Linked DNA regions of Homo sapiens. The protein of the gene in region 1 interacts with the protein of each later gene in a pairwise test. Each region holds a gene or a part of one and is shown in the gene's direction. Other genes may lie near its edges.

Region 1 (8,062 bases):
GGCTGGGATTACAGGCATGAGTCACTGCGCCCAGCGAAAAATTTTTTTTAATCAGAGGAGAGGGATGTAAAGCCTGGATTAGGGAAGGCAGTCTTGAATTTTTTTTTTTTTTTTTGAGACAGAGTCTTGCTCTTGTTGCCCAGGCTGGAGTGCAGTGGCACCATCTTGGCTCACTAGCAACCTCCGCCTCCCAGGTTCAAGCAATTCTCCTGCCTCAGCCTCCCAGGTAGCTGGGATTACTGGCACCCGCCACCATGCCCGGCTAATTTTTGTATTTTCAGTAGAGATGGAGTTTCACCATGTTGGCCAGGCTGGTCTCAAACTCCTGACCTTGTGACCTGTCCACCTCGGCCTCCCAAAGTGCTGGAATTACAGGCATGAGCCACTGCACTCAGCCGGCAGTCTTGAATTTTTAACAGAGGAAGGGTTGGTACAGGTTGGACACAGCAATAGCACAAGTGTGAGGTGGAGACAGGCAGGCTATGACCCATGTCAGGGCAGACAGGAGGGCTGTGTGTTTGAGTATGAGGTTGGGGGCGGGTGCACGCACAGAACATGGCTGGGTTCAGGGGAATAGCCAGATTGGTCTCTTCTCATGATCTGCGCTTCACTGCCAGCTTGCCCTACACGATGGTCCCAACATTCCTAGGGGCCTTGGGGGACAGAGGGATTTTTGGAGGTCCCTCCTATTGTCTGCCCACCAGTGCTTATGTCTGGCATAGCAAAAATAGAACAAGACACCCCTTTGGAGCCCAGGCTTCATTTAAAGGCAAAGACATTTGAAGAAGGCTCAGACATGGGGTAGAGTGATGGTGGTGGGGAGGAGTGGGACAAAGGGGGACCCTGGGGACAGAGGCTTCAAACCCAAACCAATCCTTTGCCTGATTTCCCTAGAGTTACCTCACACATGGCCCTGCATTTGCCCAGAAAATTAAGAACCAATCAGCAGGCTGTCCCAAGGGGCAAGAGGCACTGCCTGCTTTAATGAGTGTGCCCCCTCCCACCCCCAGGCTTTCTCTGGCTGCCTTTGCTGCCTAACTAGTCTGGGTAGGAGAGGTGCCACTCACTACAGAGACTTGTTCCCAGTGCCTTTTGCATGTGTGGGACCCGGTCCAGCAATGGCAGGACACCTGTTGAACATCACCCAACCCCATGGCAGCTGGGCCAGGTTGGGAATTTGCTGGCAGCTGGCACAGAGGTGCCCAGGTGCAGCAGTGAGAGAACAGGAGCAGGCTGCTGTGGTAAGGAGGGGTGGGGATTGCCCGGGCAGAGCCATACCTGGAGGGGCACCAGTCAGCAGCGTGAGCTCAGTCTTCACACAGACCCCTGCCCTGTTCCCTTTGAGCGTCAGTCCCCTCATCTCTACACTTGAGGGGGTGGGATTGGACTTGGTAATTTTAGGGCCTGCCCTCTCTGACATCTTGGGGGGCTGTGATTTCTCACCAACTGTCACTGTGCAAAAGCACTGTTTGACCTGGGTTTGACCCCAGCTCTGTAACTTACTGGCTGCATGACCTTTGGTAAGCTGCTCCTTTCTCCAGACTCATTGATTCCAATCTGTTAGGAGAACTCAAAGGATAATCTTTGCAAAGTGTCCAGGCCCAGGGTCCAAGGTAAATGGGTTCCACTCTTAACAGAGCTGTACCTCCCCTAGTGCCAGTGTCCCCTCTGAGGCCAGCCTCACCACTGCCCTTTTCACATCTGGCTCCAAGTAACAGAAACCCCAACTTGGATCGGCTTAAATACTAAGGATATTTATTGTCACACACCACATCAACTCACGACATAGAATGCTGCCAGAATTGGTGGATGCTCAGGCTCAGAAGCATCCTCGAGGTCTCAGGATCTTTCCAACACCCCGAATTACCATCTTCAGCTGGCTAACGGCTCATGGGGGCACTTCATCCAAATAGAATGAAAGACCAGCAGATAAGAGGCAGCCTCTCTTTTTTTTTTTGCGACCAAGTCTCTGTCCCCCAGGCTGGAGTGCAGTGGCGCAATCCTGGCTCACACTGCAACCTCTGCCTCCTGGGTTCAAGCAATTCTCCTGCCTCAGCCTCCCGAGTATCTGGGATTACAGGCGAGCGCCACCATGCCCAGCTAATTTTGTATATTTAGTAGAGATAGGGTTCAACCATGTTAACCAGGCTGATCTTGAACTCCCGACCTCTGGCGATACGCCCACCTTGGCCTCCCAAAGTGCTGGAATTACAGGCCTGAGGCACCGCACCCAGCAGCACCCTCTCTTCTTGTAGGTGGTTTTAAAGAGCAACTGGAAACCAACCTTACCCAGCCATCCCTCAGCAGACCTCCTTCCTGTCTGATTAGCCAGGATTGGGTTACATGCACTTCCCTGAGCCAATCACTAAGGAGGGGTGTGGCTCTGCCTTGCTGGTATAAATGTGGAAGGTTATGGAGGCGGAGCCACCCGAACCCAAGGGCCATCTGCTGGTGATGAGGCAAGGAGGGGCATGGTGGTGGGCTAGGTGGCCCTCAGTGGAGCCTGGTGATGATGGCAAAGGCTGAACTGGTGAGTTAAGGGGTAGATGGCCTGTCGGACTTCACCTGGTCCAGCCTGCTGGAACCAACATAGGGTGGGCCGTGTAAGTTACTCCTACCCCGGCACCTTGGAAGGGGCCCATTGCCCAACAGGCTGCTCCTGTTGTTCTGGTCTCCTACAGAGCTGGAGTGGAGCTCCGGGAAGCCATGTGTGCCCACCACCATCCCCTCCTCTCTCAGCCCCACAGCTGGCCTGTCCCCAAGCTCTCCTGGGGCCCCTTCCATCCCCACAGACCCTGCCCTAGTGCTAGCCTCCCCTCAGGCCCCTGCCATCCATTCTCTGAGGAGCAGCCAGGGCATCCCCTGCCTAGCCCTTCCCCTGGGCCCCCTGTTACTATCACGACAAGGCAAATCCCACTCTCAGCCAGGTCCACAGGCCCTGTGCCCTCCAGCCTCCTGGCTTATGGCTCCAGCTCATACAGGCATTCTGCAGCCCCACTGGACAGCTTGCTGTTCTCCACACCCACACTGCCCCTTCCCACCTCCAGCCTCCACCTCTGCTGCACTCGCAGTCTGGAATGGCCTTCCTCTTCCTTACCTACTGCCCTTGTCCTTCAGGTCCTCCCTGAGGAATGGGGTCAGAAGTCATGGCTTTCTCCTCGCACACCCCAGCTCCCACAACCACAGCTTGCTTAGGACTCTACATGTTTGTGTGTGTGTGTCTGTCTGTCTGTCTGTCTGTCTGTCCCCTATCCTCCTGGATGATGGTGGGCTACAGGGTCGGGGGCAGAGTCTGGCTCTACAGCACCCCACAGGCATCTGGAATGGAGAAGCCCCCCAGAGTCAACATTTGCTGAGTTCAGTGAAGTTGAACTTACATCTTAATAGCAAAACATCCATTGTCTCCTTTAACCTTACAACAGGCTTTCAAAGTGAGGAGTTTGAGGCATATCCCCATGGGATGATGGGAAAAGTAGGTCCCAAAGAGGAGAAGGGACTTGAAGGCCACACAGCAAGGTTGAGGCAGACCCAGACCCAGAGCCAAGGGGTCCTAGATCCCTAGAGACCCCAGCCCAGCATCTGCTCCCAGCAGCTACTCCTCCAGATGGCGGCCACTATGCCTGGGCAGAGCAGGCAGAGGTGGATGTGGGTGGGCCCAGGGGAAATAAGGCGGTGGGCGTGGAGGGGCCATGGAATGAAGGCTCTGTCCCCAGGGGAAGCAGGTCTGCCTCCATGGCTGGGGGTTAATGGCTTTTCTGAAGATCACAGCTGAGGGTTAATGACATTCCATAATTCCACTACCGCTGTGGCCCTTCCATTAGCATCTGCAGGCGATGCCTGCCTCTCCCCGCCCCCATCCTGCACACACATCAGCCACAGTACCCTCACCAGGGCTCTGGCGTCAGACTGCAGGTCTTCTAACTTTGAGTTCCCACCACTCCTGCCTGCACATGCACAAGACAGGCTGACCCTCCCTCCCCAGTCCTAGGTCTGAAGTGATCTTTCCTAAGTGACTTGCCCTGGGAAACTACTCAGGGAAAGGGCTGTTCCTTATTGGGCCGGCAGCCACTCACCACCTCTGGCTTCATAGGCTCCATTTAGACACATGAATAGGTCCCAGAAAGGGCAGCTAGCGTCTACTAAATAACCCTCTTCCAGGGTAGGAGCAAGGTATGGACGGCAGGGGACTGAGTCACAGGTGCCCCAATGCCTGGCAGACAGTCCCAGCCATGTGGACCCTCCTGCACCCAGGAGAATGGGGTGACTCTGGGAGGGACATGGTTTGGGGATCAATCTTGAAAGATCACTCCCAAGCCCCACAGAAGTCAGAACCAACTTCTCTCACCGGACCTGTTGGCCAAGCTCCCATAAGAAGTGGGATGTTCCCATCATTGCAGTCTCTGTTCAGGTGTCCAGGGCACCCTAGCCCTGCAGTGACTGCAACCCATCTCCCCAGGGGCAGGGGCAGACACAGCTGAGCCTTGGGCTGGGCCTGGACAAACCAGGCCCATTAGTGTGACCGTCATCAGCACCCTGCCACTGTGGGGAAGTGGACCTACACTGATATTTCATGATCCTGCATCAATAACTCCTGGAGCCGCAGTGCATTTGTGCTGACCTTTTCGAGCAATGACTGATTCCTGTGGGGGAGCAGGAGGTGGGAGCGGCTGCTACTGTTGCTGACAGCCCCTGGCTGGGGAACAGAGGCAAGGCAGCCACTTGGTGGGTCTGTAGCAACGACCCGCAGCCCCGCCCTGTGCTGGGACCCTGCAGGGCTGCCTGCTGGGAGTTATGGGCCGATGGCCATCTCCCATCTCCCACCTTCTGGCCTTGGCAGATGCTGGGCCTCCCCCTGGAGTCTCTCCTCATTTCAGGCGTCCTCTGCACAGGGTGTGCTCAGTGCCACTCCACATTTTTGATTGTGCTGTTTTCCCATCCTGAAGACCTTTATCCCTCTCTTCACCCAGCCAGACCTTCCTTCAGAGCCTTTCTCTGGTTCTGCTTCCTTTAAGGAGGCTTTTCTGACCACCCATGGGAATATTTCATATAGCTCTCTTATTGGGCAGTGCTACAGTTAATACTGTCTTGTTTCATTGTTTAAATCATACCCATGTGTGTGCCCTAACTGCTGACCTAGGGTGCCATCAAGTCCCCCGAGTGCCCACTGGCCCACACTGCGGGCACACGGAGCCTCTGTAGTCTGCAGAGATGTCTTGGCCTCTGCAAGGGGCTGGGGAAACTGTGTGGGAAAGAGAGGGGCTGGTGACACAGACAGAGGTCATGTCTAACTTGGCATCTGTGACACCACCAGCCATGGGTGTGAACACAGATACAACACTTTAGGAAAACAGTTTACCAATAATGAATGAGGTGTCCTAAAATACACATGTCCTATAACCCAGCAATTCCATTTTAGGTAGTTGTACTAAGGAAGTAATTTGCGACATGAAGATATGTAGCAGAGAACGTTCAATGCAGTGTTATTACAGGGAAAAATGGGAAGGAAGAAATCAGGGCACTTGGACATGAACTTCATATCCTGAAGTTACTCAAGTCATGGGTAATGAGCTTTCTGTGACTTTGGATCTGCTTAGGTTTTACTGGCAAATGAAAAATGCAGGATGCTAGAATGGTGATTATACACAAAATATACACAGAAAAAAACTAGGAAGAAGCACAGTTTTATGAATTATTGTGTTTATCATAGGAACACAGGAGCTGTTTTTCTTCTTCCTATTTTTCTGCATTTTCCTAAATGTATTTATTAGGTGTGTGCTGCATTTATTTGTTTATTTATTTATTTATTTATTTTATTTATTTAGAGACGGAGTTTCGCTCTGTCACCCAGGCTGGAGTACAGTGGCGCAATCTCATCTCAGGGCAACCTCTGCCCCCCCGGGTTCAAGCAGTTCTCCTGCCTCAGCCTCCTGGGTAGCTGGGATTACAGGAGTCCCCCACCACACCTAGCTAATTTTTGTATTTTTAGTAGAGACAGGGTTTTGCCATGTTGGCCAGGCTGGTCTTGAACTCCTGACCTCAAGTGATCCACTTGCCTTGGCCTCCCGAAGTGCTGGAATTACAGGCGTGAGCCACTGTGCCCAGCCAGCTTGCTTTTATAGTTGGGAGAAACATTTGTGACAAATCTAGATACACAAAACCAAATATCTGTGTATGCCTTGATTTGGGAGAAGCTGTGGCCCCCACCACCTGCTCCTACCCTCTCCCTCCAGCTGTCCAAGCCTGGGGGACCCCCAGAGCAGCCCCTGTGGAATCAGTCCTTCCTCTTCCAAGGCCGAGATGGAGCTACCAGCTTCTCAGAAGACACAGCCCTGGTGCTGGAGTACTACTCCTCAACTTCAAGTACGTGACCCCTGGTGCCTCGCCAGGGCAGCCATGCCTCAGGAGATCTGTATTATGAAAGGGTGTTCAGACCATCCCACCTCTGCCTCCCACAGGGATGGATGGTTCCCAGGTGTCCAGGCGGCTTCCTAATGCAGGCAGAGGAGAGCTGGCTGCGTTCCTTGTCCACAGGCCAGGACACGTGGGCCTGTCCCATACTAGGTCTTGGCCCCAAGCTTTGTTTTATTGCACCCATCAGTGATGGGGGAGGGCTGGAGCCCTCGGAACTCACAGAGAGGGGTGAGGGAGATGGGCTTCAGAGACCAGCTGATCCACAGTTTTCTGCACTGTGGGATTGAAGCCCCCAAAGGGTAGAGATGAGGCTGATGTATATAAATTCCCAGACACACAGAGTATGTTTAGAGTTGGCTTTGAGTTCACAAAGCCCTGAAGATGAGAAGAGGATGTATGTGCAGGGAAAGGCCAGGAGGCAGGAAAGCAGGCAGCGGGAGACAGGAGGACTGGATGTCAGGTATTAAAGGATGGGGCCGAGGTGGGGGCTTTGGCAGGAGCCCTAGTTGATCCTTCCCCCACAGTGAAAGGCAGCCAGCCGTGGACCCTCAACCAGCCCCTGGGCATCTCTGTGTTGCCGCTAAAGAGCCGTTTGTACCAGAAGATGCTGACAGGGAAAGGCTTGGACGGGCTTCACGTGGAGCGGCTCCCCATCATGGTGAGCCCCCTGCCCTGAACTGGGCCCCTAGCGTGCCCACCTGGCCCCACCCTGCCTCACCCTGCCCCACCTCACCACACCTCCATAGGAGAATTTGGCTTCTCCAGAAGCTTCTGTCAAGGCACCCACCAGGGAAGTCACCCAGTCTAGAAGTGAGGAGCTCCCTGGAACCCCAGAAGCCAGTCTTGCCTCTGGGACTATGACGAACCAAGCCAGAGAAATTGCCCCTGAGCAACTTGGGAGACAAGTACAGGGTGACCCTGTGAGACAGTGCAAGAGTTCAGGCTTTCAGCCAGCCAGACCCTGATTTGAACCACAGTTCAAATCCTCACTGTGGAAATTCAGGCACATTACTGAACCACAAGAGTCCTCGTCTGTAACACAGGAGAAGCATGCCAAGTACACAATCTCTGTGTATAACAAGAGAGTTCAGAGCTCAGGCTCTAGAGCCAGACTGTCTGGGTCCAAATTCTGGTTCCACCACATACCAGCTAACATGACCATGGGAAAACTACTGAAAGTGTCAATGCCTCAGTTTCCTTGCCTATAAAATGGGTACATGGCAATAGCACTTTTTTCATAGGGTTGCTGTGAGATTTCATGAGAAAACCCATGGAAAGCACTTAGAGTAAGTTCTCAACAAGAATGAATAATATCGTTACCATCATTCTCTATTCCTATGCCACCATTTCCCCTAAAATACTTCTGGCCATCCTGACATAATAGACCTCAATGAATGAGAATCTCTCTGTCAGATGAGCCTGGTAGTGCCAGACAGGTCTCTAGAGGGGTTTAGAAGGGGTGGTGTGGAGGCAGTTTGCGAGGGCAAAAGCAGGAGGCCAGCTCCCACCTCCCTCCCACCCTCCTGGGTGCAGCCCGCAGGTGACACCTTCCAGAGAAATCTAGAACAGTAGGTGGGGCAGAGGCGGAAGCTGCCCTGGCCAGCATGGTCTGAGTGCTCCCTTTTCCTCCCCAGGACACCAGCCTGAAAAC
Region 2 (8,062 bases), on another chromosome or scaffold:
AATTCCGTCTCAAAAAAAAAAAAAAAAAAAAAAACTAGCCAGGCGTAGTGACACACGGCTGTAGTCCCAGCTACTTGGGAAGCTGCTGAAGTGGATCACTTGAACCCAGGAGGCAGAGGCTGCAGTGAGCCAAGATCGGGCCACTGCACTTCAGTCTGGGCAACAGAGCCAGACCTTGTGTCCAAAAAAAAAAAAAAAAAATCCAGTTATGAATCCAATCACAGCATATGGTAGCTGACAGTGTTTTTTGAACTCCTCTACTATAAGTACACACATATATACTTTTTCAAATTTTACAAAATAATATCACGTTTTGACTTATGTAGTATGCTAAGCATTTTACATGGATTCATTCATTTTCATCTCATAACCCCATAAGGAAGGTACATTATTGTCCACATTTTATGTGTAAGGCAACTGAGACTTTGCTAGGTTACATATTTAAAAGTGGCATTCAAACTCCAATCTGGGCTAGGTGTGGTGGCTCACACCTGTAATCCCAGCACTTTGGGAGGCTGAGGTGAGAAATCACTGGTGCCTAGGAGTTCAAGACCAGCCCTGGCAAGACAGACCTCTTCTGTACAAAAAAGCAGCAGCAGCCAGGCGCAGTGGCTCACACCTGTAATCCCAGCACGTTGGGAGGCTAAGATGGGTGAATCATCTGAGGTCAGGTGTTCAAGACCAGCCTGGCCAACATAGTGAAACCCCATCTCTACTAAAAATAGAAAAAATTAGCTGGATGTGGTGGTGGGTGCCTGTATTCCCAGCTACTTAGGAGGCTGAGGCAGGAGAATCGCTTGAACCCAGGAGGCAGAGATTGCAGTGAGCTGAAATCACACCATTGCACTCCAGCCTGGGCAACAAGAGCGAAACTCTGTCTCAAAAAAAAAAAAAAAAAGAACAAGAACAAGACAAAACAAACTCTGCTCTTAAACCACACCTGTTTACCTGCGTATTGCTTTCTAGTCCAGAACCTGCCAAAAATAAATGGAGACAGTGTCCCTGTTCGTGTACCAGCAGTACTATATCTATAATCACAACTTTTTTGAAAATCTGACATCAGTATAATTTTAGAATTTACCACTTAGATTTATATAGTTGAGGTATACAAGTAGAGATGTTATTAAATGTTGCCTGTAGGTTTCTCTTTTTTTTTTGCAGGGTGGGGATGGAGTTTTGCTCTTGTTCCCTAGGCTGTAGTACAATGGCTTGATCTCAGCTCACTGCAACCTCTGCCTCCCAGGTTCAAGCGATTCTCCTGCCTCAGCCTCCAGAGTAGCTGGGATTACAGGCGCCCTCCACCACACCCAGCTAATTTTTTGTGTTTTTAGTAGAGATGGGGTTTCACCATGTTGGCCAGGCTGGTCTGGAACTCCTGACCTCAGGTGATCCACCTGCCTCAGCTTCCCAAAGTGCTGGAATTACGCGGTGAGCCACCGCGCCCAGCCGAGATTTCCCTTTTTGTAGCAATATGTAATAAGGACTTTGGAGCATAAGAGCTAGAAGCTTTAAAATATCAATTGTGTGATTGCTCTTGTTAAAAAAATTTTTTTTTAATTAATTGAGTTGCTCTTTTCTTAAAATGAAATTAATTGTGTTTCTTTATGTTCTTAAAGGAAAGATAAAAATTCAAGATATTTTAGCATGCAGCTTCCTAGATGATTTATTGGAGGTAAATGTTTTTAAACTACTTAATTGTATCACTTGACAGTTGCTATCTTCTAATTATGTCTTTGTGTTCCATTAGCTAAGGGATGAGGAACTGTCCAAGGAGAGTCAAGAAACAAATTGGTTTTCTGCTCCTTCTGCCCTAAGAGTTTATGGTATGTTCCTATCATAATGCTAAAATTTGAATTATCCATTCTTCAGGAAATTGGTGTTCAGAGGACAGTTTTATACATACACTGATATACCTTAAGATCAAAATATTTAATTACCTTAAGCTTTAGTATTCTACATTACCAAAATTTACTTGTTTAAATACCGATGTTTTAACTTTTTGGACTCCCCCCAACCTTTTCTTTTTGAAGACAGGGTCTCACTCTGTCACACTGGCTGGAGTGCAGTGACATGATCACGGCTCAGTGCAGCCTTGAAGTCCTAGGCTCAATCCTCTCACCTCAGTGCCCCTACCCCACCCACCCCACCACCCCCAGTACTGGGTCTACAGGCGCCATGCCTGGCTAATTTATTTTATGTTTTTTTAGAGATGGGATCTCACTGTGTTGCCCAGGCTGGTTTCAAACTCCTGGGCTCAAGCAGTCCACCTGCCCTGACCTCCCAAAGTGTTGGGATTATAGGCATGAGGCACTGCACCCAGCAGAACCCTTTTTAAGTTATACACTTCCTTTTCAATAGAACAGAATGTAATTTGATCCTTGTTGACTCAGGAGCATCATTATGAACATTAGCTATTGTCATGCTTTGTTGATAAAATGCTATTCCCAGGGTCTACTGATGGAGCTAATCTACATTATCTTGTTGGGTGGTCTTTTGACTCCTTTGGCTTTTTTTTTTTTTTTTTTTTTTGGAGATAGAGTCTTGCACTGTTACCTGGGCTGGAGTCCAGTGGCATGATCTCGGCTCACTGCAACCTCCACCTCCCAGGTTCAAGTGATTCTCCTTGCCTCAGCCTCCCAAGTACCTGGGATTACAGGCGCTCGCCACCACACCCGGCTAATGTTTTTTTTTTTTGTTTTTTTTTTTAGTAGAGACGGTGTTTCACTATGTTGGCCAGGCTGGTCTGGAACTCCTGACCTCTGATCTGCCCTCCTCAGCCTCCCAAAGTGCTGGGATTACCGGCGTGAGCCACCACGCCCGACCTCCTTTTGGCATTCTTATCTCTACTTTCAAGTGCTAGCATTTCAGTGCTTTTTGTTGGCCTCTACCTCCATTTAATTTAGAAACCTAGGAATGTTTAAAAAGACTGCAAACTGAAAACAAATAATGATGTAAGTGAAACAGCCCAGAGACTATGGCCTTCATGATGGGTTTTTTTGGCTGTTTCTAGCCCAAGGGTTTTTCTGATCAAGATTGCAAAGGTAGCTGATAGTATTACACATAGGCCACTACCCTAATCATAACATGAATAGTTTGAAAATCAAAATATTAACCAAGAAAAAACTTTTTGTTAGTCTATTCTTCTGATTAAAATTTTATTGTGGTCATAAGTGTCTTTATTATTTTTCTTCCCAAGGCCAGTACTTGAATCTTGATAAAGATCACAATGGCATGCTCAGTAAAGAAGAACTCTCACGCTATGGAACAGCTACCATGACCAATGTCTTCTTAGACCGTGTTTTCCAGGAGTGTCTCACTTATGATGGAGAAATGGTAGTAGTTTAAATCTGCTGCTAAGTTTTAAAAGTTTAGGCTCCCAGAGTTTCCACAAACCCTTTTCTTGATGTAATACAGCCCTTTTTTTTTTGAGACAGAGTCTTGCTCTGTCGCCTAGGCTAGAGTGCAGTGGTGTGATCTCCGCTCAATGCAACCTCCACTTCCTAGGTTCAAGTGATTCTCCTGCCTCAGCCTCCGGAGTAGCTGGGATTATGGGTGCATGCCACTGCATCCAGCTAATTTTTGTACTTTTAGGAGAGATGGGGTTTCACCAGGTTGGCCAGGCTGGTCTTGAACTCCTGACCTCAGGTGATCTGCCTCCCAAAGTGCTGGGATTACGAGGCGTGAGCCACCACACTCGGCCCAGCATTATTGATATCACTGTGTAACAGTGTCTTTAAAATGTGTAAACTGATCAAATTACTTGAGATTCAGAGTCTTTGGTCTTAACGTAAATTAAAACATCTGCATTATGGCCTCAGGGCAAATAGAAAAGCTTATTGTTCATTTCATTGTCAGTGCACCTACTGTACAGTAGTGCATTCTAGTTTTTTTTTTTTTTTAAAAAAAAGCTGAGGCCAGGCTTGGTAGCTTATGGTTATAATCCCAGCGCTTTGGGAGGCCAAGGCCACAGAACCACTTAAGGCCAGTCGTTCAAAACTAGCCTGAGCAATACAGCGAGACTGTCTCTACAAAAAATAAAAAAATTACTTGGGCATGGATGGAATGTGCCTGTAGTATAGCTACTCGGGAGGCTGAGGCAGGAGGATTGCTTGACCTGAGGAATTTGAGGCTGCAGTGAGCTATGATGAGGCCACTGCACTCCAGTCTGGGCAGTAGAGTGAGACCATGTCTCTTAAAAGCTGAAACATTAGTAAATTATTCTGGCTATTTTCAGCTAGATAGTTCCGTCATTAAATTACCAGGTCAAATGTAGTAACACATATGCCATGATTTAATTCTGAGAATCAGGTTGTATTAGTCTCTAGAAGTGGCTATATGAACAGCTGAAGATAACATGCACTTGTCTTTTTATTATAACAATGCAAAATACTTGAGAAGGAAAATTCTAAACAGCATTTTAAAATCACCATTTTTGCTGCTAAAAACATGGGTTAAGAATCTGATAACTTTGGGAGGCCGAGGCGGGTGGATCACAAGGTCAGGAGATGGAGACCATCCTGGCTAACACGGTGAAACCCCGTCTCTACTAAAAATACAAAAAATTAGCTGGGTGCGGTGACGGGCACCTGTAGTCCCAGCTACTCCAGAGGCTGAGGCAGAATGGTGTAATGGTGTGAACCCGGGAGGCGGAGCTTGCAGTAAGCCGAGATGGCGCCACTGCACTCCAGCCTGGGCAACTGAGCGAGACTCCATCTCAAAAAAAAAAAGAATCTGATAAATTTCCCAAACCAGTTATGCTTAAAAAATAGTCATATTGTCATGAGAATGGGGGGGTCTTACATTTATCATTTAGCTTCAATAGCAGTTTGCTAAATAACACCATTAGTAACAACAAAAGAAAAGAGGGGAAAAGGCACAGAAAATTTACTTTGTAACTCCCACAGCTGTAAACAATAGACAGTGAGGAGCTTATATTATTAATATAATGATTCCTGATGAATAGAGAAAATCAGGCTACAACTATGGATGAAGTCAGATCACAATCTGCATTCTTTAACTCTTTAGTGCTATTTATGCAGAAAGGAACTTTTCTAAGAATATAAAATTTTTATCTAAGTGAGAACCTCCCAATTACTACTTTTTACCATTAAAAAAAAAATCTGAGTATCCTGTTTTTTTGTTTTGTTTTGTTGTTTTTGTTTTTGTTTTAGATGGAGTCTCCCTCTGTCGCCCAGGCTGGAGTGCAGTGGCGCGATCTCGGCTCACTGCAAGCTCCGCCTCCCGGGTTGACGCCATTCTCCTGCCTCAGCCTCCCGAGTAGCTGGGACTACAGGCGCCCGCCACCATGCCCGGCTAATTTTTTTTTGTATTTTTAGTAGAGACGGAGTTTCACCGTGTTAGCCAGTATGGTCTCGATCTCTTGACCTTCTGATCTGCCCGCCTCGGCCCCCCGAAGTGCGTATCCTGTTTTTATAGGGAAGGCTTTCTGTTCTCTTCATGTCTTTCTGGCCTTTCCATTTTGCCTTTTTATGGATGAGAGCAGTGTCAGCTCACTGTAAAATGTCTGGCAATCTCAAGACAGCTTCTTATTGGAAATCTGAATTAAAAATTTTAAACAATATTTTAAAATAGCAATTTAAATATACTGTTCTGAGACTGGGCACGGTGGCTCACACCTGTAATCCTAGCATTTTGGGAGGCCGAGGTGGGTGGATCACCTGAGGTTGGGAGTTTTGAGACCAGCCTGACCAACTTGGAGAAACCGCTTCTCTACTAAAAATACAAAATTAGCCAGGCGTGGTGGTGCATGCCTGTAATCCCAGATACTCAGGAGGCTGAGGCAGGAGAATGACTTGAACCTGGGAGGCAGAGGTTGTGGTGAGCCAGGATCGCGCCATTGCACTCCAGCCTGGGCAACAAGAGCGAAACTCCATCTCAAAAAAAAAATTATACTGTTCTGTTCATTCCAGATAAAAAATTTGTTTTTCAAAATAACTGCACTGAAATGAAGTTATAAGTTTATAGCTTAGTCATCTGTTTCAAAAGTTTGAAGCAGGATGCAGTAGTTCATCCCTCTAGTCCCAGCACTTTGGGAGGCCGAGGCCAGATGATTGCTTGAGCCCAGGAGTTTGAGACTAGCATGGGTAATACAGGAAAACCCCATCTCTACAAAGAATTTAAAAAATTAGCCAAGTGTGATGGCGTGTACCTGTAGTCTCAGCTGCCTCGGAGGCTGTAGTGGGAAGATTGCTTGAGCCTGGGAGATCAAGGTTGCAGTGAACTATGATCGTACCACTGCACTCCAGCCTGGTTGATAAAGTGAGACCCTGTCTCAAAAACAAGAATAATGAAAGAAAATTATAGTTTAACACAGCAAATCTCTCATAAAAAAATGAACTAGGGCTGGGCACAGTGGTGCATGCCTATAATCCCAGCACTTTGGGAGGCCGGGGCAGGCGGGTCACTTGAGGTCAGGAGTTTGAGACCAGCTTGGGTAACATGGAAAATCCTGTCTCTACTAAAAATATAAAAATTAGCTGGGCATAGTGGTGTGCACCTGTATTCCCAGCTACTTGGGAGGCTGAGACAGGAGAATCGCTTGAACCTGGGAGGCAGAGGTTTCAGTGAGCTGAGATTGCACCACTGCACTCCAGCCTGGGCAATAGAGCAAGACTCCGTCTCAAAAAAATAAATAAATAAAAAAGAACTATGTCCTCAAAACTGTCCTGTGTAGATTATATATAGAATTCCTATGGCTGGGCAGGGTGGCTCACACCTATAATCCCAGCACTTTGGGAGGCTGAGGCGGGCGGATCACCTGAGGTCGGGAGTTCGAGACCAGCTTGACCAACATGGAGAAACCCCATCTCTACTAAAAATACAGAATTAGCCAGGCATGGTGGCACATGCCTGTAATCCCAGCTACTCCGGAGGCTGAGGCAGGAGAATTGCTTGAACCCGGGAGGTGGAGGTTGTGGTGAGCCAAGATTGTGCCATTGCAACTCCAGCCTGGGCAATGAGAGTGAAACTCTGTCTCGAAAAAAATTCCCTAGAAACCAATATTAAGTATATAAATGGATTTCTCATATCATAACTTAGGGAAAAAATTAAATTTGCCACCTTTGATTGCAAAATAGCTTCAAATCATAAGATATTCACTTGAAAGTTAATTTCAACTAAGGCCTCTAATGAACATTATTTTCTGTTCTGTAGGACTATAAGACCTACTTGGACTTTGTCCTTGCATTAGAAAACAGAAAGGAACCTGCAGCTCTACAATATATTTTCAAACTGCTTGATATTGAGAACAAAGGATACCTGAATGTCTTTTCACTTAATTATTTCTTTAGGGTAAGTCTCATTTGCATAAGTGAGTCATTGTTCCTTAAGATATATCATTTTGTTGCTGCCGGTGCAGTGGCTCACGCCTGTAATCCCAGCACTTTGGGAGGCCGAGGCAGGTGGATCACAAGGTCAGGAGATAGAGACCATCCTGGCTAACATGGTGAAACCCCGTCTCTACTAAAAATACAAAAAATTAGCCAGGTGTGGTGGTGGGTGCCTGTAGTACCAGCTATTTGGGAGGCTGAGGCAGGAGAATGGCGTGAACCCGGGAGGCAGAGTTTGCAGTGAGCCGAGATCGTGCCACTGCACTCCAGCCTGGGCGACAGAGCGAGACTCCGTCTCAAAAAAAAAAAAAAAAAAAAAATTGTGAGATGCAGCAAAAGCAGTGGCTAGAGGGAAATTTATAGTATTGAATGCATATACTGGAAAATGTTAAAGATCTAAAATCAGCATCTACTTTAGGAAATTAGAAAAAGAAGAGCAAATTAAAGATATATCATTTGGTTTAAATTAAATATTTAGTAACCATTTTACCTAACTCGTGATTTTTATTTATTTTTTTCTTTTTTTGAGAAAGGGTCTGGCTCTGTCGCCCAGGCTGCAGTGGCATGATCATAGCTCGCCGCAACCTCCAACTCCTGGGCTCAGGCAGTCTTCCCACTCAGCCTCCCCAATAACTGGGTCCACATGCCTGTAATCCCAGCTACTTGGGAGGCTGAGGCAGGAGAATCACTTGAACCCAGGAGGCGGAGGTTGC

The links. The genes of interacting proteins can lie anywhere in the genome.
Region 2: the proteins of CCDC33 (region 1) and PPP2R3C interact in a two-hybrid assay, tested with the Homo sapiens proteins (2 studies listed by BioGRID and IntAct).

What each region holds. Positions count from the first base shown.
Region 1 is NC_000015.10:74,273,733-74,281,794, forward strand, and holds part of CCDC33 (coiled-coil domain-containing protein 33), read left to right. Parts: intron 1-5,386; exon of another isoform or gene 5,387-5,560; intron 5,561-6,230; coding exon 6,231-6,360; intron 6,361-6,935; coding exon 6,936-7,069; intron 7,070-8,045; coding exon 8,046-8,062.
Region 2 is NC_000014.9:35,090,319-35,098,380, reverse strand, and holds part of PPP2R3C (serine/threonine-protein phosphatase 2A regulatory subunit B'' subunit gamma), read left to right. Parts: intron 1-1,616; coding exon 1,617-1,672; intron 1,673-1,747; coding exon 1,748-1,823; intron 1,824-3,196; coding exon 3,197-3,333; intron 3,334-7,173; coding exon 7,174-7,311; intron 7,312-8,062. UniProt on the Homo sapiens protein: May regulate MCM3AP phosphorylation through phosphatase recruitment. May act as a negative regulator of ABCB1 expression and function through the dephosphorylation of ABCB1 by TFPI2/PPP2R3C complex.